5 separate regions of the Homo sapiens genome follow, and all the other regions are linked to region 3. Evidence: fine-mapped expression QTL. A gene starts in region 3. Each other region holds a variant in brackets. All regions are shown on one strand. Distances are between the middles of the regions. Region 1 has its middle 20 kb from the start of LINC02704. Region 2 overlaps TSPAN18 (tetraspanin 18). Region 3 holds the start of TSPAN18 (tetraspanin 18). Region 4 overlaps LINC02704 (long intergenic non-protein coding RNA 2704). Region 5 overlaps TSPAN18 (tetraspanin 18).

Evidence for each region. PIP is the estimated chance that this variant, and not a neighbour inherited with it, causes the effect.
Region 1: its variant is fine-mapped to the expression of TSPAN18 in whole blood (TOPMed, PIP above 0.99).
Region 2: its variant is fine-mapped to the expression of TSPAN18 in whole blood (TOPMed, PIP above 0.99).
Region 4: its variant is fine-mapped to the expression of TSPAN18 in whole blood (TOPMed, PIP above 0.99).
Region 5: its variant is fine-mapped to the expression of TSPAN18 in tibial artery (GTEx, PIP above 0.99).

Annotation. Positions count from the first base shown.
Region 1 is chr11:44,678,572-44,683,672 of GRCh38, reverse strand. No RefSeq gene overlaps it. Among named protein-coding and RNA genes, the nearest start is that of LINC02704, 20 kb to the left of the region's middle. The variant C/T (reference allele first, on the strand shown) is at 2,491.
Region 2 is chr11:44,751,739-44,756,839 of GRCh38, reverse strand. The region is part of intron 1 of TSPAN18 (tetraspanin 18); the gene reads right to left. Among named protein-coding and RNA genes, the nearest start is that of TSPAN18-AS1, 18 kb to the right of the region's middle. RefSeq lists enhancers at 2,331-3,137, 3,138-3,946. The variant G/A (reference allele first, on the strand shown) is at 2,736.
Region 3 is chr11:44,724,759-44,729,859 of GRCh38, reverse strand. TSPAN18 (tetraspanin 18) reads right to left here and starts at 2,898. Exons shown (of 10, transcript NM_130783.5): 1 at 2,573-2,898. The region is part of intron 2 of TSPAN18-AS1 (TSPAN18 antisense RNA 1); the gene reads left to right. RefSeq lists enhancers at 393-893, 894-1,396, 3,112-3,281, 2,648-3,509, 3,510-4,370 and silencers at 1,766-1,935, 2,772-2,921.
Region 4 is chr11:44,691,366-44,696,466 of GRCh38, reverse strand. LINC02704 (long intergenic non-protein coding RNA 2704) reads left to right here. Exons shown (of 3, transcript XR_931234.3): 2 at 154-246. Among named protein-coding and RNA genes, the nearest start is that of LINC02704, 7.4 kb to the left of the region's middle. RefSeq lists an enhancer at 3,837-4,337. The variant C/T (reference allele first, on the strand shown) is at 2,593.
Region 5 is chr11:44,862,192-44,867,292 of GRCh38, reverse strand. All of the region lies in intron 3 of TSPAN18 (tetraspanin 18), which reads right to left. Among named protein-coding and RNA genes, the nearest start is that of TP53I11, 86 kb to the left of the region's middle. RefSeq lists enhancers at 4,390-4,439, 4,540-5,101. The variant C/T (reference allele first, on the strand shown) is at 2,290.

The sequences.
Region 1 (5,101 bases), 46 kb after region 3:
GTTAAAAATATACTACAGCAACTATTTATGTAGCATTTACATTGTATTAAGTATTATAAGTAATCTAGAGATGATTTGAAGTATATGGGAGGATGTGCATAAGTTATATGCAAATATGACTCCATTTTATATAAGGGACTTGAGTATCTGTGGATTTTGGTATCCACAGGGGATCCTGGAACCAATCCTGTAGGGATACTGAAAGATGACTGTATGCACTTTACAGCACAAAATCGGATAATAGTGACTAGGCTATTTAGTAATCTGTTATTTTTCCCCATCTAAAGATAGCATGTCAACTGGGCAGCACTGGGTCATTTATTTCTGATACCCATGTCATTCTAATGACACCCATGGGCTCAAGGTGGCCTTTTTTGAAGGTCTCATGTTGCCCAGGTTCTCCCATGACTCCTTTATTGCAAACACTAAAAGTGATTTGCATTTCTCTGATCAGGTCTTCAATTCATGCCTCCATGCCCTTTTACTTGCTGGTTTCTACCAGCAAAGCCCTTCTCTGCTTAGCAAAATCACACTCAGCTCACATATTACTTCTGCAGTGAAGCCTTCCCTGGCTACTCTAGCATCATCCTCTCCTCTCCCCGTGCCCTTATCTTCTTGCAATGCTTCTACAGGATGTTTTATCTGGTCCTGTTTGAGCATCTGTCACTTTGTATTTCTACTGTACAGGGTGTCCATAAAATCTGGAAACAGGCAAACATACAGAATATTGTCAAAGACATCTTTCATATGTAACATATACATACATTGTTATGACTTTCTAGGCTTCTGGACTTCATGGATACCCTGTATTTTCACTGGTCAGTCCCCTTCATTCCATGGTGAGTGCTGGAAGTCAGAGAAACACTATCTTCTTCATATTTGTATCTCTAAGGGAGTATTTAGGTGATTATTGATCACAGTTTCCTCATCTGTGACATGGGACCCTTTGGATAGTGGTAGGTGAGATGAGATAATGCAAGAAAGCAATTAGCACAGTGACTGATGCAAAGTAAGCTTTCCATAAATAGTGGCTATAACTGTTTGTAGTATAATTGCTATTGTTATTAAGCCTGTGGCTTTTTGAACAAGGGATGTGCAGAGTGAGGGAGGGATGACTAAATGAACAGATGATGGATGAATGGATAATGAGTGAAAGGATGAGAATATGGATGGGTGATAAAGGGAGAAGGATGGATGATTAATAGAGGCTGGATGGATAGTCTTAGAATGGATAAATGGAAGGATGGAAGGATGGGTGGATGGGTGGATGTATGGATGGATAAATGGATAGATGGATAGATGATGGATGAATGGGTGGATGGATGGATGATGGATAGATAGGTGGGTAGGTGAATGGGTACATAATGGATAGTTGGATGTGTGAGTGATGGATTGATGAATGAAGGGTCCATCTTTTCCTTTCATAAGTAAGGATAGAAGAAAGGAGGCAAGAGGTTGACAGGAAGACCAAAGGTCTTGGTGGCTAGAGACAAGAGTCAAAGGCTACTTGTTATCCCAGCCTTCTACCATAGCCCAGATCTCAACTAGGTCTCATAACTTAGTCTCCGAGTGACTGTTCCTAGGCCGACTTGAGGTTATGCCTCTGGAATAAGAAGAGATTGGCTGTGGAATAGCTGAAGGAGCAAATGTAGGGCTATAAATCTGCCCTTGGCCGAGAGGCTTTCTTAGAATTCACTGTGAAGTTCACTGACCATGAAGTTGCTTCTTGGGGGAAGGGAAGCCCTAAGCTCTCCTCCACTGGCAAGGAAGAGTGAGTCATTATGGTGACCTGAAGGTTGCAGAAGCAAACACCACATTGCTGCCCAGCTGGCCCTAGCTGCAGGTCCTGAGGGGCCTTTTCAGACACATCCAGGAGAGGTCTCAGGGAATGATCCCCAACCAGCCACCCAAGTGGGATTATAGGGGGAGTGAAGAGCAGGGCAAGCCCCTGGGAGGGAGCTTGGAGGGGTCCCAGAATCCTGGAGCACCAGCACCAGCAGAGACTCAGGGATCCTCCAGGCCACCCCACCCATGGGGCAGATGGAGACACAGAGGCAAGAGAGGGTGGTGGCTTCCCCAGGTGCCCTGCAGGTCAATCAAGGGTGGAGTCGGCGCTTGAATGCAGGTCCCAGGCTGTGGGGTCTCTCCAGTCCTCACTGTTAGCTATTCCTTGGCTGTGGGGTGAAACCACCCAGACTCTCCAGGAAACCCTGAGGCTTCTCAGGCAGGGCGTGGCTAGAAGCAGTTTCCTGGGGGCTGGTTTATATTCCGACACTGGTGTGTCTTTCACCACAGCCCCTGTAATGTTCCAGGAGTCACTCTCCAGGATTCTTGGATGCTGAGAAACCCTCCCAGGCCCTGAGGCCGATAAAAGAGTGTTGGATCAAGTCCCTCTCTGCTGCGTGGAGCCCACGGTGATTATCTCTGGGACTCTGACTTGAAGAAGCCAGGAAGACAGAACAGTGGCTTTTCAGGAGCTGCAGGTCAGGC[C/T]CTGCCCAGTGGAAACAGCCACACCTGAGAAACCCACATCCTTTTGCTGGGGAGCCAGAGTGCCTGGGCGGGGTGTCCTGACTCCTCCCCTTACTAGCATGGCCTTCAGGGAGGTACCTCCTCTCTTTCTGCATTTCATGGCTGAAGAGAGGGGGATGGGGGCGAGGGATGCCAAGAAAGGGTGGCCTGAGAGAAAAGAGGAAACTTAGGAATGCATTTGGGCCTGTTTACTGAAGGCCTGTTTACTCTGCTCCTTGCACCCAAATCCCACTGAAAACAATAACGAATTTGGGGGGAAAAAATAGAGCAAGACCTCCTTTTTTTTTTTCTTTTTTTTTGAGAGAAGTCACCCAGGCTGGAGTGCCATGGCACGATCTTGGCTCACTGCAATCTCTACCTCCTGGGTTCAAGTGATTCTCCTGCCTCAGCCTCCCTAGTAGCTGGGACTACAGGTACCTGCCACCACACCCAGCTAATTTTTGTATTTTTAGTAGAGATGGGGTTTCACCATGTTGGCCAGGCTGGTCTCTAACTCCTGTACTCAGGTGATCTGCCCACCTAGGCCTCCCAAAGTGCTGAGATTACAGGTGCCATTTTTTATTAAACCAGAAAGTATACATGCTGCTAAATGCCACAAATATGAAGAGGGCACAGAGAGACGAGGAGGAAGCCAGTCTCCCTACAGACAGCACCACTGGGAGGCCTCCTCTGTGGATGATAGGGTCTGGGGGCAGCTCAGGCTGCAGGGTCATGAGAAACATCCTTCTGTAGACCCAGTTCAATAGCACAGGACAGTGGGGGGCGAGACGGGACGTGCTGACCGTCCATGTCTCCTGCCTGGCACCCAACTCCTCCCAGCACCAGGAGACTGCTGGGGCGAAGTAGAGGAAGGAGGACGTTTGAAGGCCTTTGCTGAGTCTTGGCAAACCTCAGTGCTGAAGTGGGAGGTGATGTATGTCCAAGGAATAACAATAAAGGATTTGGAAAGAGCATGTCTGCTGGAAACAAACCCTAGTCACTTTCTGGGTTGCATACCTCTCTCTTCAATATCATCCTGCAACAAATGACTGGCTGTGTTCTAAGGTGAATGATAATCACAAAGGAACCAAAAAGGGACTAAAGAAAACAAAAAGGCAATAGAGGTAAGGAACGTAAGCAAAGACCACAAGAACTGACGTCAGGAGAGGACTTATTAAACAAACAAAAAACACAGAGGGAGAGTCAGACACACAGTGCTCCAGGTACTCAAAGAGATTGCACACGACCCAACCTCCTTAATGAGCTAAAAGATGTCAAGGTTTCCATAAAGCACTTATGAGGCAACAGACAGAAAGACACCAGCTCTCAGGAAAGAAATAGAAGCAAAAAATAAAGACACTTTGAAATTAAAAAGACATATGGGCTGGGTGCAGTGGCTGATGCCTGTAATCCCAACAATTTGGGAGGCCAAGGTGGGCAGATTACTTGATGTCAGGAGTTCGAGATCAGCCTTGCCAACATGTCGAAACCCTGTTTCTACTAAAAATACAAAAATTAGCTGGGCGTGGTGGTGGGCACCTGTAATCCCAGCTACTCGGGAGGCTGAGGAGGAGAATCGCTTGAACCCAGGAGGCGGAGGTTGTAGTGAGCCGAGATCGTACTATTGCACTCCAGCCTGGGTGACAAGAGCAAAACTCTGCGTCAATTAAAAAAAAAAAAAAAAAGACGTATGGATACAAACAGCCAACAAACATATGAAAAAAAAATGCCCAACATCACTAATTATCAGGGAAATGCAAATGAACACCACAATGAGCTACCACAGTACTCCTGCAAGAATGGCCATAATTAAAAAGTCAAAAAATAATAGATGTTGATGTGGATGTGGTGAAAATGGAACACTTTTACTCTGCTAGTGGGAATGTAAACTAGTACAACCACTATGGAAGACAGTGTGGAAATACCTTAGAGAACTAAAAATAGAGCTACCGTTCCATCCAGCAATCCCATTGCTGGGTATCTACCCAAAGGAAAAGAAAGTCATTATACGAATAAGACACCTGCATGCATATGGGCATAGCAGCACAGCTCACAATTGCCAAAATATGGAACTAATCATATTCAACCAATCATGTTCCAAAATATGGAACCAACGATATTCAATCAACGAGCGGATAAAGAAAATGTGGTATATATACACCATGGAATACTACTCAGCCGTAAAAAAGGATGGGATAATGTCTTTTGCGGCAACTTGGATGGCGCTGGAGGCCATTATTCTAAGTGAAGTAACTCAGGAATGGAAAACCAAATACCATATGTTCTTACTTATAAGTGGGAGCTAAGCTACGGAGATGCAAAGGCATAAGAATGATATAATGGTGGCTGGGCACGGTGGCTCACACCTGTAATCCCAGAACTTTGGGAGGCTGATGCAGATGGATCACAAGGTCAAGAGATTGAGACCATCCTGGCCAATATGGTGAAACCCCATCTCTACTAAAAACACAAATTAGCTGGGCGTGGTTGTGCGCACATGTAATCCCAGCTGCTCAGGAGGCTGAGGCAGGAGAATCATTTGAACCCACAAGGTGGAGGTTGCAGTAAGCCAAGATTGCGCCACTGCACTCCA
Region 2 (5,101 bases), 27 kb before region 3:
TGCAAATAACTCAAGTGTCCATCAACAGATGAATGGATAAGCAAAATGTGGTCTATCTACACAATGGAGTATTAGTGAACCTTAAAAAAGAAGGAAATTCTGACACGCTGCAACATAGATGAACCTTGAAAATGCTATGCTAAATTTTAGAAAGCCAGTCACAAAAGACAAATACTGCATGATTCCACTTACATGAAACATGTAGAATAGTTAAAATCACAGAGACCAGAAATAGAATGGAGGTTACCAGGGGCTGGGAGGAGAGGAAAATGGGAAGAATTATTGCTTAATGGATATAGATTTTCCATTTTACAAAATAAAAAGAGTTATGGAGATGGATGGCATGGACGGTTGCACAACATTATGAATGTATTTAAAATAACTGAACTGTGTACTTAAAAATGGCCGAGATGGTAAATTTTATGTTGTATTTTATGACAACTAAAAAAAAATGGGGAAAAAAAGGGAGTAGCTATGATTCATGATTCCAAGTTATTCTCCTGGGAACCCTTCCCTCCCTCCCTCCCTCCCTCCTTTTTGTTCTCACAAAGAACAGATGGGGGCTACACCCCTCCACACACACACAACACACTTAATTCACAACAATTGGACTTCACAATAATTTATATATTAACTTTCCAGATAACATTGAAGACCACTGGTTTAGAGTCTCCTGTTGTCCTAGAATCCCAAGTCAGTCGGATTTCAGAGGAGGAAGAGAGCCAGGAAGACTTCCTGGAAGAGGCAGCAAGGAACAAAGGAAGAGAGAGAGTTGACCAACCCAGTGATAAGCCTTTCCCTGGTTAGCTTCTGTTGGCAAACTCTCTCTCCATCTCCCTCTTCCCTCCTCCATCTCTCTCTCCATCTCTCTTTCCCTCTCTCTCCATTTCTCTCTCTGTCTCCCCTTCTCCCCACCCTGGCTCTGTACTCCCAACCCTAGTCACCCTACATCTCTTCCTGGCTCCTAGGAGAAATAGCCACCCTTCTGAGTCCCGAGGCCATAAGAATTTGGCCTTATGCCCCAAGAAGGAGCAGCGTCCTCAGGGAGACCCTGGATGCCAGCTCAGCCTCAGACCTCGTCTCCCAAGCCGATGCCAGGCCACAGGATCCAGGCTGGGCCACTGCCAGCCTGATGCATTGCTTGTTGACAGATAAAAGCTCTGCAATTTATGGCTCCAAAGCAAAGCCAGGGCTTTGTTTTGCTTTGTTTTAAATTAGCTACATAGGGGGTTGGTGTGGGGGCAGGGGAGAGGGAGGAGAGCCAAGGCATGCTCAGGATGTCTTGGGGCTGCGTCCCCAGCTCAGCAAACCCCAGGGCAGCCCTTAATGAAGCCACCTGAGCGCTGAGAACCTTGCAGTGTCTGCCGGGCTCTCCACCTGCACTTGTCTGGCTGGGGGAGGGAAGCGCTTCCCACCTGCTCGTCCTGTCACTGGGCCCAGCACCCTTTGTTCCCAGAATGAGTCCCAATCAGCCTGGTTAATTGTGCCTCAGGGTCTCAGTGGGGCTGAAGTGAAACCATGACATCCTCAGAAAGATGGGGATCTATTCCTGCTCAGAAAGAGGAGGCTGTTCCTTACTGTACTTGACACAGTGCAGCAGGCTCTGGGCACTGCCAGCAAGGGGCCCCAAGGGTCTACCCAGAAGCATGGGCCTTCCGATCTGAGCCCATTAGCTCTTGGTGGGATGAGGAGGGTGGAAGGGCCAGGGAGGGAGGGAATGTCCCAATCCCCATAAATGATTGCCTGAGACTGTTTATTCTCAATGCAACTGCTGTTAAGAATCATTTCCCCTCACGCCTCCCATCTGGTCTGGGGCTTTTCTGCAGACAGCACATGCCAGCCAGGGTCTCTGTGTGCCCTCCTGTGTAGGACCTGCCATAGACAGACACAGCCGCACTGGTCAACTGAGTAGGAAAGAGCATGTGTAGCCTGTGGCAGCCCAAAACCTCTTGCCATCGGTGGGCATTGTCCCACATCTGCTCCCTCTTTGTGCTGTCTGAAAGCACTTTCTCATCACTTCAAGGAGGTAAGGACAAGGACTATCCACTGGACCTCCCTTTTCATCTAAACTGCACTCTTCTTTCTCCTACACCGCACAGCTCAGAGGAGTCAGGCATCTTAACCACAGTCACAGAGCCAAAGCTGCCCAAGCCACGGCACTCATTAACTCCAGCCTGCATTAGAGGCCAGGTGTGGCCAACACCATAGTATTAATCCTCTCAAGGATACATCTGAGATCTTACATCTTGGGTCATTGGGCTGTTTGAGCAAAGATACCAGGCTTTCAAAGGTTACAAGCACAGCCAGTGCTTTGGCACATGGTTCAAGAAGAACAGAGACTGTCTCAGTGCTGAAGTTGGCTTTGGTATGAATTGTGTCTCAACATGTTCCAGACCCTGAACTCCACGTGGATGCAATGTGCAGTATTAAACACACAGGAACGCATGCCCAAGGATAGTCTGCCTCGGAGAGAAGCAGTATTAAAAAGCCACACGCCAGTAATAGAGATGTTTCTAAACTGGCCACCCTGCAGCTAGCAAGGAAGCTGAAGGCCGCAACTGGGGCTATTAATTCAGACTTTATAACCCACAGGGCTGCAGCGGAATACTGGGAAAACTGCACCCCAACTCTTTGTAATGCTTCCCTGCTCAAGTCCATGTAAATATATTCTAATGCAGAAAAGGTCCGCAGGAGGCAAGACCACAGAGTCATTAGCATTTTGATGGCTTTTCCCA[G/A]CACATGGAACCAGAGAGCTTTAAAATTCATAGCGTGGAGATTAATCCTTCAAGTCACACTTGTCCCTCCTAAGCTTTAGGAGGCCAAGAACTTTTTACCCCTTTAAGACCTTGATTAGCAAAGAAAGTTAGAAAACCAGAGAGCTCGGTCAAGGGAGTCCTAGTGAAAAGACGCATGACTGGTTTTCTAGACTAAGTGTGTTGCGTCCAAATACAATTAAATGGCAGAATTAGAGATGGGAGTAGTGGATAGGCTGTCACCCTGCATGAGAGGTGGGAGCTGCTTTGACTCAAATACTCCAGAAGAGGAGTCCCTGCCGATCCCTAACAGCACAGCTCATCCTTTTGTAACTGACGAAAGCCAGGCTTCTTAAAATCCATGTGTATTCACTCAGCAAGCCACACTGAAGTCGATCACTATGTGCTCACATAATAGATGCTTGGGACGATGGGATCAGGAAGCCAGTTCAGCTCAGCAAATCCATGATCTCAAAAAACTCAGTTCGAATGGAGAAAGAGACAGGGAAATTGGAGATTACAATAAAATGTGAGGGTGGCAGCGGCGAGTCCAGCTACCCTGGGACCCCCAGGAAGATGCTGGGGGCACCCACAGAGGGTGAGTCAAGCTGGGTTTATGAGCAGATCAAAACTTTCTTTTGAAAATGGATGCGCTGGCTGAGTGCGGTGGCTCAAACGCCTGTAATCCCAGCACTTTGGGAGGCTGAGGCGGGCGGATCGTGAGGTCAGGAGATCAAGACCATCCTGGCCAACATGGTGAAACCCTGTCTCTACTAAAAATACAAAAATTAGCTGGGTGTGGTGGTGGTGCATGCCTGTAATCCCAGCTACTCGGGAGGTTGAGGCAGGAGAATCGCTTGAACCAGGGAGTCGGAGGTTGCAGTGAGCCGAGATGGCACCACTGCACTCCAGCCTGAGTGATAGAGTAAGACTCTGTCTCAAAAAGAAAAGAAAATGGATGCGCTATAATATCAAGTGAGAAAGGTGAGGTCCGCAGTGTTTTCTAGCATGTGATCAAAAAGAATATATGGATACTGTTAAGAAAAGTCATCTGTAATGTGGCAAAAGGCAAAGAGAGGTCTGTGTCATTTCAACCTCATATTGGAGTACTGTTTAGCAAGCCTACCCAAGAATCCTGTAATTACCCAGGGGATTCTAGAGGAATGTAACTTTGTATAAAGTTACACATGAACTTGTAGATTTTTTTGGCTAGTAAAACAGATAAACCCCAAGGTTATGGTTTTCTGCCTTATAGGGCATTAACCAGTTTTATATCCAATCCAGCCATCATATTCAGGCATTCTTTCTCCAATGCCTACATAATCACTGTTCCTTGAATTCTCCTGAGAGCTAGCTTTTCCATCTTGCTGGCCTCCTCATTAAATCAATCTTTGACTCATGTTCATTCTAGATTTATGAGAATCATGGCTTTATTGTTTAAATTATACTGACAATACATACTCATTTATATAGAGATATATGTATGCATACATGTGCACGTGCACACACACACACACACAAACTGTCAAAGAAATGAAATTTCAACAAATTGAGTTGTAAAGATCTCATTTGTTTTTATTGTGATTCATGAATTGGGCAGCATCCCATCTACAAAACAGAAAGGTGCTCTGTTGCCAAGATAGAGTCACTGCGCTTCAGCCTGGGCAACAGAGTGAGACCCTGTGTCAAAAAAAAAAGAAAGAAAGAAAGTTGTTCTGCTGAGCTGAATAGAAGGGATGGGCTTTATAGACAGGAAAAGGCTAAAGAAGGCAGAAACAAAGAACAAAATGTGGATTGGTCATTTAAAGTCACTTTCCTTGTATCGGTTAAAACAGAGAGGACTTCATCACATCAGCTAAAACTAGCCTGTTTTGGAGATTTAGCTATCATCTTCCTCCTGATTTCCTGGAAGGTCAGATCTTACAAGTAAACAATTTAGGTTTTAGTTTGATAATGTGACACTTCAGCTTGAATGACTCCATTTTGGGTTGGTGTGTTGGGGCCTAGTGCTAGAGTTCAGTCCAAAACACTGGCTTCTCATATATTTTACTTAACAACATGCAAACATACACAACACACAGGGAAAAAACTGGGAAGAAACATACGCAAAATATTAGCTTTAGGTAGCTGAGATATATATGACTTCTTTTTTTTTTTTTTGAGATGGAGTCCTGCTCTGTCACCCAGGCTGGAGTGCGGTGGTGTGATCTTGACTCATTGAAACCTCCGCCTCCCAGGTTCAAGGGATTCTCCTGCCTCAGCTTCCTGAGTAGCTGGGATTACAGGCACCTGCCATCATGTCCAAATAATTTTTGTATTTTTAGTAGAGATGGGGCTTTACCACGTTG
Region 3 (5,101 bases):
CCCACACATCCTTGAATTAATCCTGTGTCCCTACCCAGCACCCTGCCCTCCAACACACCCCTCAGACCATTAAAATCTCATTTTTTAAAGGGCAGAGGGTTCCTTCCTGGACTCAGCCCAAGGTGTCCTAAACCCAACCCCAAGGTATCCTAAACCCAACTAACTTCGGCTTCTAGAAAGTGTCCTGGAGCTTTCAATGATGTGCTACCATTTCAGACTGGGGTTGGGTAAAAGCACCACATATACTGGCTGTTTGAATGGGTTTGGGGACAAGGGAGACAAGGAAACAGAGTGCCCAAGACTTGAAATGTTGCTAAATCAGAGATCTTGGAGTTTGCCTGGGAGAAGACTGAGCCCACACAAGATACTTTAAGCCCAAACACAGACTTTAGTAGCCCTTGGGGACCTTCAACTCCCTCTCCAATTCAGGAAAAGTGGGGTGGGGGTAGGGAGAAGAGGGGAGGGACAGAACACGGGAAACGCTGGCCTTCTAGGGGCCCCATGCTCCCAGGCAGGTTCCAAGGCAGGGCTGGTCCATGCAGGCTTCCCTCCACAGAAAAACAAGAGTCACTAAAAGCAAAACACAACAAAAAAAAACTTCTTTTGTTTTCCAGCCCCCTGGAATGTCTTAAAGACCTATCCAGACACAGCAGGCTTCTCCACCCTTTCCTTTCTCTCCTCTCTCCTCCTCCTCTTCTATTCAAAATAAAAATCATGCTGATCTGTCTTTATGGCAACTTTGTCCTGGAGCATTTCAGTAGCATCCAACAAAAACATGTGGCAGACTACATTGAACAGAGGAACCTCATCTCTTTCAGGGACCCCCATTTCCCCCACCTTTGTAAGGGACATTAAGGACATGGGAGCAGGAGGGGGGCTGCCCAAGGAGCACAGGTTACCAGCTAAGAGAAAGATGAAAACTTCTACCAACCACAATGAGGCCACGGCACAATCTATGATTTGCTCCTTTGCACTCACTTGGGGTGATGGGAGGAGGGAGGGAACTGGAGAGAAAGATGAGGCAATAGTCCCTCCAATGTCCCTTCAATGTTAGCCCCGCACATGACAAAGATGACAGTCCTCACAGATGCCAGCAGCCGTCGACTTCCCAAGGCACAGACACACAGACTCAACATACAGGGACCCTGAGGCCAGACAACTGGGACCCAGGGCAGATTTCCACCAATAATTGTGAAATGACCAGAAGAATGTGGCCTAGAGACCACAGACCCAGGGGATGAGGGTGGGGGCCAGGGCTCGTTGACTGCTGAGAAATTTAACACTTCTGCCTGGACTGCTGAAGTCTTTAAGGCCCCATCCCCCACCGCCCGCCCTGTGCCTCCCAGTTTACTTGTGCCCAGAGAGAGGATACCCCAAGACCCCCATCCTGCCTTCACCAGACAGGGATTCGACCAGATCCAGGAAACAAAGGTGCAACTTTTACAAAAAGGGTGCATGCATTTTGGGGTTTGGGTTTCTGCAACTCCAAAAACCGTCAAAAAGTTAATTCCCCAACCCACTCTCTCTGCACCAATTCGCAGTTGTAGTTTCTTACATCTTTTTCTGGGGGTAAATTTCTTACTCATCCATTTGCCCTGGCAGCCTTCCCGAGAAAAATCACATCCTGACTCCTAGCCTTTCCAGCCCACGGCGCAGTTATAACTGTGAACCTTTCGCCTCACTCTTGGTCCCGCTCCCCCGTCTGGCTAGTGTAGGGCGGGCTCCTCGGGGCGGGACCCCGCGTAAGTTGGGTGTCTGTGGTCCCTGCGTCCTGGATGTCGGCGCGGTTGCCTCGCAGGAGCCAGAACGCGCTTCCTGCTGGCGAGGGCCGGGGCAGTGCGCCCCCTGGCGGGAGCCCAGTCACCTCACTCCAGCAGGACCCGGAGCCGGCGCGATCCCACCCGAGCCGAGCACCGTCCCAACTGGCTCCCACTGCCCCCTAAATCTGGACGTGCCCGAGCCTCCCACCCACCCAGCACTCCATGGAGTCTCCACTTCCCCAAACCGCACACACCTAAGGAATAAGGGGGGTCCTGGAGGAACGAGTGGCGCCTCCGCCCCGCCCCGCCCCGCTGCCAGGGACCCCAAAGGCAGCCCGCCCTCCATGCAGCTGCCGGGCCCCACAGCCCTCCCGGCCCCGATCGCCGCTCCCAGTCCCTGGTCCCTCACTGTCTTACCGGGTGGCGTGGCGAGCAGCCCCTTTCCGGGCGCAGCCCTGGCCGAAACCCCGAACCTTGTAACCACACCTGCCACCCCGCGCCGTTCTCCAGAAGCCCCCACTCCTCCACCCGGAGCACTGGGAGCCCACCGGCTCTGCACCTGTCCTGGGCGCAGCCCCCGGCCCTCAGCGGACTCCGGGCAGGCACGGGGTGGAGACCGTCCCCGGCCCCCCAGCCCCCGCGTGCTAGTTTGAGTGGAACTTGGTTGCCGGGCTTCCGTCCTGGGATCCCTACTCCACCCCAATTCCCCGCCGCGTCCAGCAGCACCCCCGGGGCGGCGCGCGGGGGGGTCCCCAGGTCCCCGGGGGCGCGGCGGCGGCGTGCGGAGGGCACGGAGGTGCGGAGCCCCATACCTTCCAGCGGCGGCTGCCGGACCCCGCGCCAAATCCCGCCGGCGGCCGGGGGGAAACTTTCCTGGTCGGAGGGGCGCGCTCGCAACTTGCCCGGCGCCGGCTGCCTTCCCGGCGGTGGCGGCGCGTCCGGGGACCCGCAGCGCGAGGCGGCGGCGCTCGCTCGGGGCTCGGGGCCGGGACCGGGGCCGGGGCCGGGGCCGGGGCCGGGGCCGGGGCTGGGGCCGGGGCCGGGGCTGGGGCTCGGGCGGCCTCGCGCGGCTCCGCGGTGGATCGCTCGGCGCTACGTCCGCCCCGCAGCCTGGAGCCCCGCGACGCCGGCGGCAGCTGCACGCCCGCCAGCCCGCCGGCCCCACCTCCGCCGCCGTCCGTCCCTCCCCTCCCCCGCCCTCCCTCCCCCTCCCCAAACCTCCGCCCCTCCCGGCTCCAGACGCCGTTGCTGCCGAGAAGCGCGTCTCCTCTGCGGGCTGCCCCTCGCCTCCCGCCAGCCTCCGCCTCCTCCTCCAACCCCGCGTCCAGGCCTTGTCTGGGGGTCCCTGGGCCCACCCTCTGCCCATCTCCCCTTCCTCCGCCTCCGACCACCTCCCGCTCTGCTCGCGGGCCCTCTCTGCGTCTGAATTCGGAAGATCGTTGCGGGAGTGGGGAGAGGGGCATGCTGGACCCGAAGTGTTTATTCCAGGGGAACTTTCAGCTGACCCCGGGGCCCAAACGCAGGGGTTGGGGTGAGATCCTCGGTCCTGATCGGGCTCCTGGGCTTCCCGCTGCCGGGGGAAGTACCTGTTGAAAGCCTGGGGAACTCACCCTCCTCTGACTTGCAGATAAGAAAGGGGACTTCCTGCATGGAGGGGCCTGACCCCAGGTCAGATGCAAATGACTTGATTGCAAGGGGCCAGATCTGTGTCTCCGGCCTCAGGGCTGAGGTTCTTGCGGGGCTGGGGAGCTTATCTTTTCTTCTCTGTACTGCTGCCACAGCAGCACTGGCTCCCAACCCCTGACATGACTTGCCTGAGACTTTTAACCTCTGAGCCTCCTCTAAACAACTACCCGACCCTGCCCCAGACAAAACGGACAAGCAAGCAGATCAAAACTGACAGCCCAAGTGAAAGTACTGATGACAGGGGCTCGGGTCGCCCACTCCTCTTCCCTTGGCAACTCTGTTTTGAGTCCCAGCTTGAAGCTTCCACACCCCATCCCCGTGGGCCCTAGGCATTCAAGCACACATCAGCTCTGCAGGAGGCCCCTTGGCCAGCTGATTCTCACTAAGGGGTGACTGATAGGAAGGAGTTGACCCTACTCCTGTCTTGTATATGGATGTTGGTAGTCAGGCCACTGGGCAGAGTTTGGGGGGAGGGGGATCTTCTTGTTTTGTTTTTGTTTTGTTTTTGAGACAAGGTCTCGCTCTGCTGACCAGGCTGGACAAGCCTGGTCAACAAGCACAGCTCACTGTAGCCCGACCTCCTGCACGGCTTACTGTAGGCTCGACCTCCTGGGCTCAAGCAATCCAATCCTTCCAACTCAGCCCCCTCGAGTAGCTGGGACCAGAGGCATGTGCCATCATGCCTGGCTAATGTTTTCTGTTGTTTTTGGTGTGTGTGTGTGTGTGTGTGTGTGTGTGTGTGTGTGTGTGCGTGTGTGTTTTGTAGAGCTGGACTCTTACCATGTTGCCCAGGCTGGTCTCCAATTCCTGGCCTCAAGTGATCCTCCCACCTCAGTCTCCCAAAGTGCTGAGATGACAGACGTAGCCACTGCACCCAGCCACCAGCCAGAGTTTTGAGAGGCAGGAAGTGGCTGCCTTTCCTTGCCCACATTCCAGGAAATGGATTCGTCCCTGTAAGGGGATGTCCCTGTAAGGACTTCAGGGATGTCTGGTCCTTTAAAGAACTTCACCGCGTCACCGGGACTCTTAGAGTAGGCACGTGGCTGGAAGAAAAATCCCTGGATCCGCGGTTTCAAAGGGACCCAGAGTGAGCAAAGCTTCACCCAAGGGGAGGAAGTCCCTAATGGTGGAATTTCTATAAGAGGAGGACAAGGAGAAGGGCTCCACATTCACCCTTCAGCTGCCAAAACAGAATGGAGGGTGGAGGCTGAACACCCCACAGGCCCTGCACTTGTGGAATGCTGCTGGGAGAGGCCCCGTGTGAGCCTCCTTGGACACCAGGCGCCACATACATTTAAAGAGGAAAAACGGGAAGCCCACAGCAAGGGTGCTGGAGCTGGGGAAGTGGAGACCAGAGACAGGCAGAGAGAGGGATAGAGTCTCTAAGGGTCTGGGGCTTGGCAGAACGGGGCAGGCGCAGGGGAAGAGAGTGCAGACCCGCTGCACAACTTAGACAACCAGCTCGGTCCCTGACTCCAGTTCCAAGTCAGTTTCCTGGACCTCAGCCTCTCTCCAGCCTCCATGGAGGACCTGGCCCTATCTGTGCATTAGCTAAGGACATCTGCTGAATAGGCTTCTCTAAATCAACTCTTATTTTTTCATTCTTTTTTAATTTACTTAAGTGAGCTTGTTTTTAAAAAGATATGTTAAATTAT
Region 4 (5,101 bases), 33 kb after region 3:
CAGAGTGGGGACTGGAACCTCGGCCGGTCCCAGGGTCTGCGTTCTTAATCACCACATTGTACTACCTCTCTGGGACTATTTCAATATTACATTTTTCTGAAGCATGGCCGCACCCCTTAGATGACTTGAGCCTCTCTTCTTCCCGTGTTGCAGGTGGAGAAACATGGGGCTAAATGATGATCTTGAAAAGGGCCCTCACTCGTGAGCCTTCGCCATGTGCCAGTCACTATGCTGAGCACCTTGCAGGTGAGAACGTGATTAACCTCACGGTAAGCTCCCACGTGGGGCCCATTGCCATCCTCTTTTGCGGACGAGGTCACCGAGGGACACAGACTTTAAGTAATCAGAAGGGGAGAAGCCGGGTCTCACACCTGGGTTCATCTGGCTTCATGGAGCAGGCCCTGAATTAGGAGTCAGGCTATGAGCCATCACTCACTGTAGGCCCTGGGACAGGGAATCTAACCTGTCTGGGCTCTGGGTTCCCCAACGTAAGGGTTAAGCCAGTCCCACAGGGCCACCTGGCTCTAGGACTCTACGGCTCTGCTTGACCCCGCTTTGCTGGGTAAACACATGCCAGTCTCTCACTAGCCAGCCTTGGAAGCTTCAGCTCTGAGAGGGGGATAATAATGACCCTCCACATAAAACCATGGGAAGACTAAATGAGATGACCTGGGTCATGCCCTGAGGACATGATAATAATGAGGAGGAGGAGCAGGAGGAGTCAAACAGCAGGACCCTGTCCACCCCAGCCTGCTGCCCTGCCCTCTACGAGTCCCCCAGAGACAGCCTCCTTTCCCCACTCCTTCAGCTGAGGTGGGGCTGGAGATTCCAGCCTGTGGCTCCAGACCGTGGGAGGAAGTGAGAATGTCCTTTCTCATCAACTCTTGTTCTTCCAGGAGCTTCAGGTCCAGGCCTTGGGGGTCAGCAGGGCAAGCCTGAGCCCTGTGGTGCTGTGGGAAGACTTGGTTCAAGTGACACTGAGCCTGGGACAAAGTGCGGTTGATGGCTCTTGTTTTCCCTGGCCCTTCAGATTGCCTTTGGGAAACCACCCAACCCTCACTCCCCTCCACCCACGTGCATTGCATGGGGCTAATTCTACCCCAGGCCCTGACTCCAAGTATGATCACCTGATCCAGACCTGGCCAATCAGCCTGTTCTGTCCCCCAGGCCACAGTGATTTGTTTAGGGATGATCATGTGACCTACAGAAAGCTTCAGGATAGTGGCTTCCTTGGGTAGGGGAGGCTGATGGTCAGACAGGGAAGAAGCCCACAGACAGATGCAAGTGCTGGTTAATGTTCTGATTCTTGTGTTGGATGACCAGGTCTTGGGTGTTTATTTATATAAATAAACAGAGGAGAACCGTTTATGAACCTATGGCAAGAGGATGGCGTGAATAAGGGATCATGATTAATAGAATTCAGAGACAAAGGGAGAGAAAACAAACAAAAAACACCTCTGGAACTTGTTGGAGCTCTTGGAAAAGAAAAGCTGTGAGTGGATGTTCAAGAGGGTAACCTAGGGCCTCATGCATTGGGGCATTCAGAAGTTTCGTACTGGATCAAAAACAACGAATGAAGCCTGCAGTGCAGAGAAAACATTGTGATATGAGGGTAAGTAGGAAACACATCTAGACAGCAGCCCTGGCCCTAGGTCACACTGCAACACTGTAAGCATTATATCCCAGTGGGGACAAGGACTGAGGGGTCAGGGAGAACGAGGACAGTTAATTTACAGAGAAGCCCAGCTGGTGGGGGATTGTGATTTGGTTTCGTTTTCCATTAACGTGGTTTGTGCGGCGCAGGTATGCAAAGGCGGCCCCACGTGAGTGAAGCACGCACCGTGTGCACCACTCAGCATCGTCACACATCCTGACATCCTGACAGGAGTCCTGTGGGCCTTTTGTGATGCCCAATTTATAGACAAGGAAGTCAAGGCCTAGTGCAGCAGAACATGCTGCAGTAGGGCCGGGAATTGAACTCAGATCTGCCCGCCTCTCAGCCTTCCCCTGTGGGAAGCCCTCTCAGGTTGGAGGACTGTGAGGCAACTTCTTTTGCAGGCCCAGCACATGCTGTGGAGCTGGTGCAGACACCTGGTTTCTGCATCTTGGGATCTCACACCCTCAGGCTGGGGGAAGCAGGGGAGGAGGCTGGTAGGTTGTGGGGGAAAAGATTTTAACTCTTTTATATCCCCCCACCTCAGTCTCCACTCAGGCAACCCCATCCCAACGTCTGCCCAGTCCAGGTGAGAGCTTGAGACTTGGCACTGGCTCAGAACCAAGGGCAGACCCTGAACAGGGGCATCCGGGCAGAGCCCCTACCCCCCATGCACTCCCTGCCCTCCCCAGCTCCCAACTCGGGGCCCCTTCCCTAGCCCCCAGCCCAGGGCCTGCTGCAGCTCCCCACTCATCACCTGAAGTGGGATTGACTACCCCCACCCCAAAGAGGGCAGCACGTGCGGCAGCCCTGATGGGAGAAGCAGACGGGCGGCCTGATGGAGCTCTGGAGAGGGAGGTGTTGAGTGAGGTGGGAGGGGATTGAGGCCGGCAGAACTAATGGCATTAACAGGCCCTCAGGGTGGACAGGGCTAAGCT[C/T]TCATCCTGGGGCCCTGGAAGCAGATAAAATGTGGGACTAGATGCTGGAACATATGCCCTGTGAGTCCTGCCTTCTTCACTTAAGCCACGCAGTGTCCTTGTGCAGGCAGGGGTTAGCTATGACATTAATAATCATAAAAAGACCAGTGGTCACTGCCATCTGCTGATCCTTATCAGGCACAGTTGTAAGGGCTGCTCCTGCCTGGTCTCAGGCTTTGCAAGGTCTCTCTGAGGTGGTGATTATGTTGTCCCCATTTTGTCTCAGATACAACCAGAGAGGGTAAGTCATTGGCCCAGTGCCACAAAGCATCTAACCCAGGTCAGAAAGGATCCATAGCCCACCCCTTTAATCTCAATGGCTATGTGACTCTCCAACTTCAGTGTTCATCAGATCATTTGAGGTGCTGGTAAAATGCAGGTTCCTGGGCCCCACCTTTATCCACTGAATTGGGATGCAAGGGGAATGAGACTTTGGAGACCATTTTTTTCAGGCAGAGTCTCACTTTGTCACCCAGACTGGAGCTCACCCAGAGCTCACTGCAACTTCTACCTTCTGGGCTCAAGCGATTCTCCTGCCTCAGCCACCCAAGTAGCTGGGATTACAGGCATGCACCACCATGTCTAGCTAATTTTTGTATTTTTAGTAGAGATGGGGTTTCACCATGTTGGCCAGGCTGGTCTCAAACTCCTGGCCTCAACTGACCCACCCGCCTCGGTCTCCCAAAGTCCTGGGATTACAGATGTGAGCCACCATGCCCGGTCTGGAAGCCATATTTTTGACAAGTGCCCCAGTTGATTCTAGTGATCAGGCATGTTTGGGAACTCCTGCACCAGGCTGTCGAAAGGACTAGTCAGAGAGAGGTGGAAAGCACCCAGTCTGCAGTGTCAGGCTTCTAAGGCTGTGGCTCATGAATAATGGAAGCAGGGGCCCTCCATGACGTCTCAGAAGGGGTGGACAAGAGGCTGCCCCAGGGCTGGTGGAGGTGGAGGACTGTCACCTCCCCACCTTCCCTGTGCCCCTTTTGGCTGCCTGTACAGAGCAGGAGGTCAAAGGCCTTGTCTAAGGACGTGGCAGGAGGGCCTCTCAGGGGCCCAGTCAATCAGTGGGGTATCTGTCAGCCCCTGGGGTGAGGCCGGGTCGGGGAAGATGGCAGACGGACACCCCCCACCCCAGGCCTCTCCCTGGGGCCAGGCAAGAGCTATCCAGCTCATCTTCCCGGGGGCTCCTGCTTCCCCCTTCCCACCCTGCCAGTCCTGCGTTGCCATCACCCGTGACTCCCAGCTGGTCACCTCACCACAGCAACAGTCCTGCTCCCTGGCAAAACAGGCACAGCAGGGGCAGAATCCTGACAGAGTCACCCACATCCACAGTCACAACCACGCTGATGGACAGACGGGGTGCTGTGTGACCCGCACCTAAACAAAGGGGAGACTGAGACCAGAAAGCTAGGCGGGGCCTGCATTGCAGAAGGGCACCCAACTCAAGGGTCAGGTTGAAATCCTGCCCAGCCACGCGCTCTGACATGGGGCTGTGTCTTTAGGGCTGGGGGTGGAAGGGGCCTATTTTTCAGGTGATATAAGAGCACTGGGGTGGGAGGGTCCCGTCTGCAGGAGGAGCCCAGGACTTGCCCAGGGTCCATCCCCTAGTTGCCGAGTGGTACTGGGTCTCCAGACTCCTAGACCCTTTGTTTGGATCAACCAGTCAGTTCAAACTGCTTTAACCCACAGAATGCTTATTTCAAATAATTTCTTTTTGTTTGTTTTTTTGTTTTTGAGGCAGAGTCTTGCTCTGTCACCCAGGCTGAAGTGCAGTTGCACCATCTCAGCTCACTACAACCTCTGCCTCCCAGCTTCAAGCAATTCTCATGCCTCAGCCTCCCGAGTAGGTGCGCGCCACCACAACCAGCTAATTTTTTTGTATTTTTAGTAGATACAGGGTTTCACCATATTGGCCAGGCTGGTTGAACTCCTGACCTCAGGTGATCCGCCCGCCTCGGCCTCCCAAAGTGCTGGGAATACAGGTGTGACCCACTGCACCCGGCCTCAACTAATTTCTTATACAAAGTAATAAATAATAACCCTAGCCAACAATGTTTGAGCATGTCCTATGTGCCAGGCCCTTCTCATGGATAATCTAATTTATGACTAAAAATAATCTTACGAATAGCCATGATTATTGCCATTTTATAGAAACATAAACTAAAGTGTCAATAAAACAGGCAAAAATCATGCTGCCACTGACTCCAGGGGGGCCACCCCCACATCTCCAGACTCCAGGGGTTCCTTGGAGCACAATTTGAAAACCAGTGCACAGCAATCTTCAGCATATTTGTACCAGAATCAGAAAACACGTCAGAACGATGCACCATGTGAAGTTTAATTAGGGATACTTCCTCCTGCAGTTTAAGCAGCTTCCTAGGGTCTTGCCATCCCTACCTCACCACCACCACCGTCGCTTTCCAGTCTTAGTAAAGAATGGAAATGCTCACCTATTATTTCATCTGCCTAG
Region 5 (5,101 bases), 140 kb before region 3:
GCCTGCTGTTGCCCTCAGGGACCCTCAAACTTGAGCTTCCATCAGAATCTCCTGGAGGGCTTGTCAAAACCCAGGGTGCCGGGCCTCACCACTCTCAAGTTTCTGATTCAGTGGGTCTGGAGTGGAGGTCTGAAAATCTGCATATCCAGGTTCCCAGGAGATGCTGGTGATGCTGGTCTGAGGATCATGTTTGAGAACCACTATTTAAACCCTGAGCAACTTGAGGTTGGTCTTTTATTATTTTTTTACCTCCAGTCTCTGAAAGAATCTGATTTAAGGTTGGTGTTCAATCAATACTTGAATGAAAGGTATTGATGCATTTGTTGCAGCCAATGAGAGTGACAGGATTATGTCTTGAGACTTTTTTTCCCCAATTTGTTCACTCTGCAGTGGGCATTCTTCTCTCTTCTTTCCGAAGATGGTGGCCAAGTCTTTGGGTCCTATGCCTTGGGGGCGGCTGGTTTCCCAGGCCAGTCAGAAAATGGCTGGGTCTAGGAAGACAGCTTAGGCTGAAGCCCATGAAGGTGGCTGCAGTGTGAGCCTGCAGAGGAGGGCAGCAGAGGCAGCAGGCTTGAGGGGAGGGGTGGAGAGTGTTTCTGGAGATCAGCCAGATTGGTAGGATCCAAAAGTTACAAGCTCAGGTGCCCTGTTCCCGGAACAGCTCTTCCAAGAGGTGATCAGGCTTTAATGGAGTGATCCTGAGATGCCAGAGAATGGTTGGGAGACTGAACACCGAAGCTCATAGCTCGGAGTTGCAACCAAAGACCACAGCTGTGCCCTGGCTAGCACAGAAATAGCTGCTGCCCACCTGGCCTCATTAGACCCTGAGATTGGCAAAGAAGCCTGTCTGCGGGGCCCCTGTGTGGGCTCAAGTCCAGCAGCCTTTCCCAAATGTTTCGGATCACATAAGGCCACCAAGACTCCTATGTGATCCTAGGTGGCAAGAAATCCACTCCCCAACATAATTGGGATTGAATGTCTTTCAAATTCGTGGAGGGAGCTGAAGGCAGATTTAATCAGATTTAGAGAAGTAAAGGCAGACGGCACACCTCGTACCTGCTGCAAGTCCATTTAGCACCGATGATGTGCTGGGCCCCATGCCAGTCCTGCTGGAACCTAATGCCAATTGTGTTCACTTGGACCTGGGCCTGTGCCCGAGTGTGGCAGCAGAGGGCACAGCTGGGAGTGCAGACTGTCAGAAGGTGAGCAGGAACAATCGATTGTGCTGCCGGGGTCACAGAAGCTGGAGCTGGACTGAGCCCTGGGGCACTGTGACAGAAGAGGGGCCCCCAGCAGGTGGCCATCCACATTGTTTGTGAGGCTGGCACTCCAAGCCTGGACTGAATGTGGTTCGGCTCAGGCCACTCCCATCCCCAGGACTCTGAGACCCCATAGAGTGCTGGAGACCCCTGTGACTCAGAGCAAACAGTGCTGGGGAAGCCAGGCTGCCTAAGGGACCCGACTGCTCCTGCTCCTGTTCCTGCTCCACTGAGACCCCTTGGCACCAGCCTCAGGACTTTTAGCCTGGATGACAACTGGCTGCAACAGCCACCAGGCTACTGTCCCCTCCTGACTGCATAGCTGTCCCCTGTCCTTAAGGAGAGAAAAAAAAGAAGAAAAGTTCTAGTCTTGAAGAACCCCACATTCAAAGAGAATGTTGCTAGGAAAAGGGACTGATGGGGTTGGCAGGTGGAGGGAAGAGGAATTTGCTTTTTAATTTAAATCCTTCCAGATCATTTGAATTTTTAAGAAGCCTATATTGCTTGTGTAATAATAACTTTTCAAAGTAACTTTTTTGTCTTACAAATGCAAAGTAGTCTGGAAAAACCCGTGTGGGAGCAAGAAGATGCAACAAATAGCTTAAGGGTGTTCATTAAATACACCATCATCATCCTTTCTTGAGCATTTACCACGTGCCCAGAGCTCTGCAACTGTTTTAACACTCATTATTTAATTTAAAGCTCATCGCAGCCCTATGATGCCATTAGTGCTACCATTTTCTAGATGAGAGTTGAGAATTTGAGAGAGACTCAATAACACGCCCAAGGTCACCCAGCCTCAGAGCTGGCGTTTGCAAGCTCTGTCCTTAAATCAGGGTACACACCAGGCTGCCTCCCTGAAATCAAACTGAGAAACTTAATCAGCTCAAAAGCCATTTGTTTTGAGTCCATTCCACTACTTGAAAATTCCTTATATTCCACGGGAGCCAAAATCAAATTGTCACAGAAAAACAAGCCAAGAGATTGGTATGTCCAACCACCCCGGCTGAGGCTGGGACAACACCGATTC[C/T]AGTAAATCCACTGTGATCCTTCCACCCATCCATCCATTCACCAACCTCTGGCTGATGCCCCACATGGCAGGCTCTGCTGGCTGCCAGAGACCAGAGAGGGTGAGATACCCACAAGGAGACCGCCAGGCAAACACAGGGGCAGACTGGACCCCCAGCACCTTCCATGTACAGGCTTGGCGTCCTCCAGAAATAATCAAAACCCTTTGCAGTTCAGGATCCAAAGAAGCATCAAAGGGGGGTGAAAAATGAAACAGGACCTTGCCATTGGCACCCAGGGCAAGCCCATCTTCCCCGTGAAACACTTAGTTTTCCTGATGCTGAACTGGGACTTGGCAATCCACCCCATAAGGTCCATGTGCAACACTGGACCAGTCCATTTTAGTGGATGCTCTGGCATTTCACCCAGGCCTTAGGCCCAAGATGGCAAGGGAGGGTTGAACAAAGCTTCGGGTGCCATGGGAAGCTGGGGTGGGATTTTCCCCAAGGCCTCAGCCTGAAGACCTGAGCTGCCGAGAGCAGGGACCCTGAGCATCCTATCCAATAGGACCCCACGTGCCTCTCAGAGGCCCAGGCACACAGTAAGTGCTCAATGAAGTGTTGGTGAATGAATGAATAAATGTGATTCTGGGTAAGGCAGCCCCAACCCCAACACTTTTCGGAGATGGGAGGGGTGTGACACCCCACCCCATCACCAAGTTTTTTTTTTTTTTTTTTTTGAGACGGAGTCTCACTCAGTCACCCAGGCTGGAGTGCAGTGGTGCGGTCTTGGCTCACTGCAACCTCTGCCTTCCAGGTTCAAGCAATTCTCCCACCTCAGCCTCCCAAGTAGCTGGGACTACAGGCGAATGCCACCACACCCGGCTAATTTTTGTATTTTTAGTAGAGACGGGGTTTCACTATGTTGGCCAGGCTGCTCTCGAACTCCTGACCTTGAGATCCGCCCGCCTCAGCCTCCCAAAATGCTGGGATTATAGGCATGAACCACCGTGCCCGGTCCCCATCACCAAGTTTTTTGGGACATGGACCAACAGGCACCTATACACTGAAGACTCCCACAGAGTTATATTAATATGATTGAAATATAAATAATAACAACACCAAATAGCATCAGTACTACACTGAATGCTGATCCCTGGCAGGTGCTCTGTTAAGCACTTTCTGTCATTCAAGTATTTCCTTCCATCTTCACACAGTCTTACGAGAAGTGACTATTACTATCTCTAACTTACTTATAAGAATACTGAGGCTGTACTGCTAGCAGAGCTCAGATCCGAACCCAGGTCTGACATGGAATACAATGTTTCAAGCGGAAGGAGCTTGACAAACTATAGGCCAGGAGGCTAAGGACATCAGTAGTGCAGCAGGGACCCAAGTCTCCCAACTTCCAGCCCAGGGTATGCCACTAGGGCAGCTGCTTGCAATGCTCTAAGTGAAAATGAGCCCTAAGCTCTGTAAAGTATCTCAGGAATGAGAGGATTAAGAACTCTTGGTCTTTGTGCAGCACCATCTCTTTGAAAGGGCCCTCCAAAACTCCCCTTCCCAGGGAAGAAGAGGACAAAAGGAAAAGGGAGGCGCTACTAAACTCCGTACCCAAGCTGTAGTTGAAAGCAGCCTTGAAGACAAGATGGCCCCAGGCCCAGCACGGCCAAGCCTGGAGGCCTGCGGGAAAGAAGGCTAACCGAGTTCATCTGGCTTCCTGCCTGGCACAGTCTTTCAAGCCTCAGGGTCCCACTGCCAGGCCTTTGCTCTCACTGTGTCTTCCTCCCGAATGTCCTTTCTAACGTCCGAAACTGGCCTATATCTAGGCACAGCTCACAGGCCTTGCATCCCCTGATTTTACACCACCACTGTGCAGCAGTAACATCTCCTTCTGGCCTCTGAACCCCCAAGCCTTCCTTTATATTTCAGCTCTGGACCCTCCCATTCTTTACCTTGGATGTCTTGACTTTGATCGTCTCCCTTAAAAATCTGGCCTCTGAGGTGCCTGTTGAGTGCATCTGAATGAATGACGAATGCCTGGGAAGTGGAGCTTGTATGATTCGTTTTATTAACAGGTGCACACTCCAGGAGCAGGTCTGCATACAGATCTCTCTAACAGCTGCCCTTCCTCCTCCCCAGGGCCATGACAAGTGGCACCTTACACCCTAAGTCCTAAAGGCTGAGAACCAAGTCATTCTGCTATTTCTGCTGCATCAGGCACAGGTGGGGGCTTTACAAAATGCTGTGGAAAGTAACTGACCGACATATCTACCAAGCCAGCCCAGTTATGGTTTAGCACTGTCTGAGACATCAGGCGAGGGGTTGGGGGCAAGACACCCAGAGGAGGGTCCTGCCCTCAGGAGATCTCCCAGAGGAGAGGTCAGGGAACCCTGAGGACAGGGACCTTTGGGCTTTGCTCACCCTCAATCCCCAGCATTTAAACAGCTCCTGGCACATGATAGGCACTCAACAGCCATTGGCTGAATAAATGAATTAACACTCATTGACCCAGAGGTGCTGAGCTCACCATATAAGGCAGGGTGGTGCTGAGCGCTGAGCTGGCTGCATGGTGAGTCAGAGCTTTGGAGCCCACAGGCGAGACACAGAGCGAGAGAGACTGGGGGAGGGCCAGGAGGTTTGTGGTTGACCAAAACCAAGCAAGGGGCAGCTGCCTGGGAGGCAGCATCACAAGCTGTGGTTTTCGGTATTTTTTCTGCAGAGGAATATTTGCTCAAATGAAATCACACATCGCACCCTAAATGTAGGACAGAGCTGCCGCGGCGGAGGGCAGCAGGGCTGCCAGGCTGGCCTGGCCACGTGTACCCTCGTGCC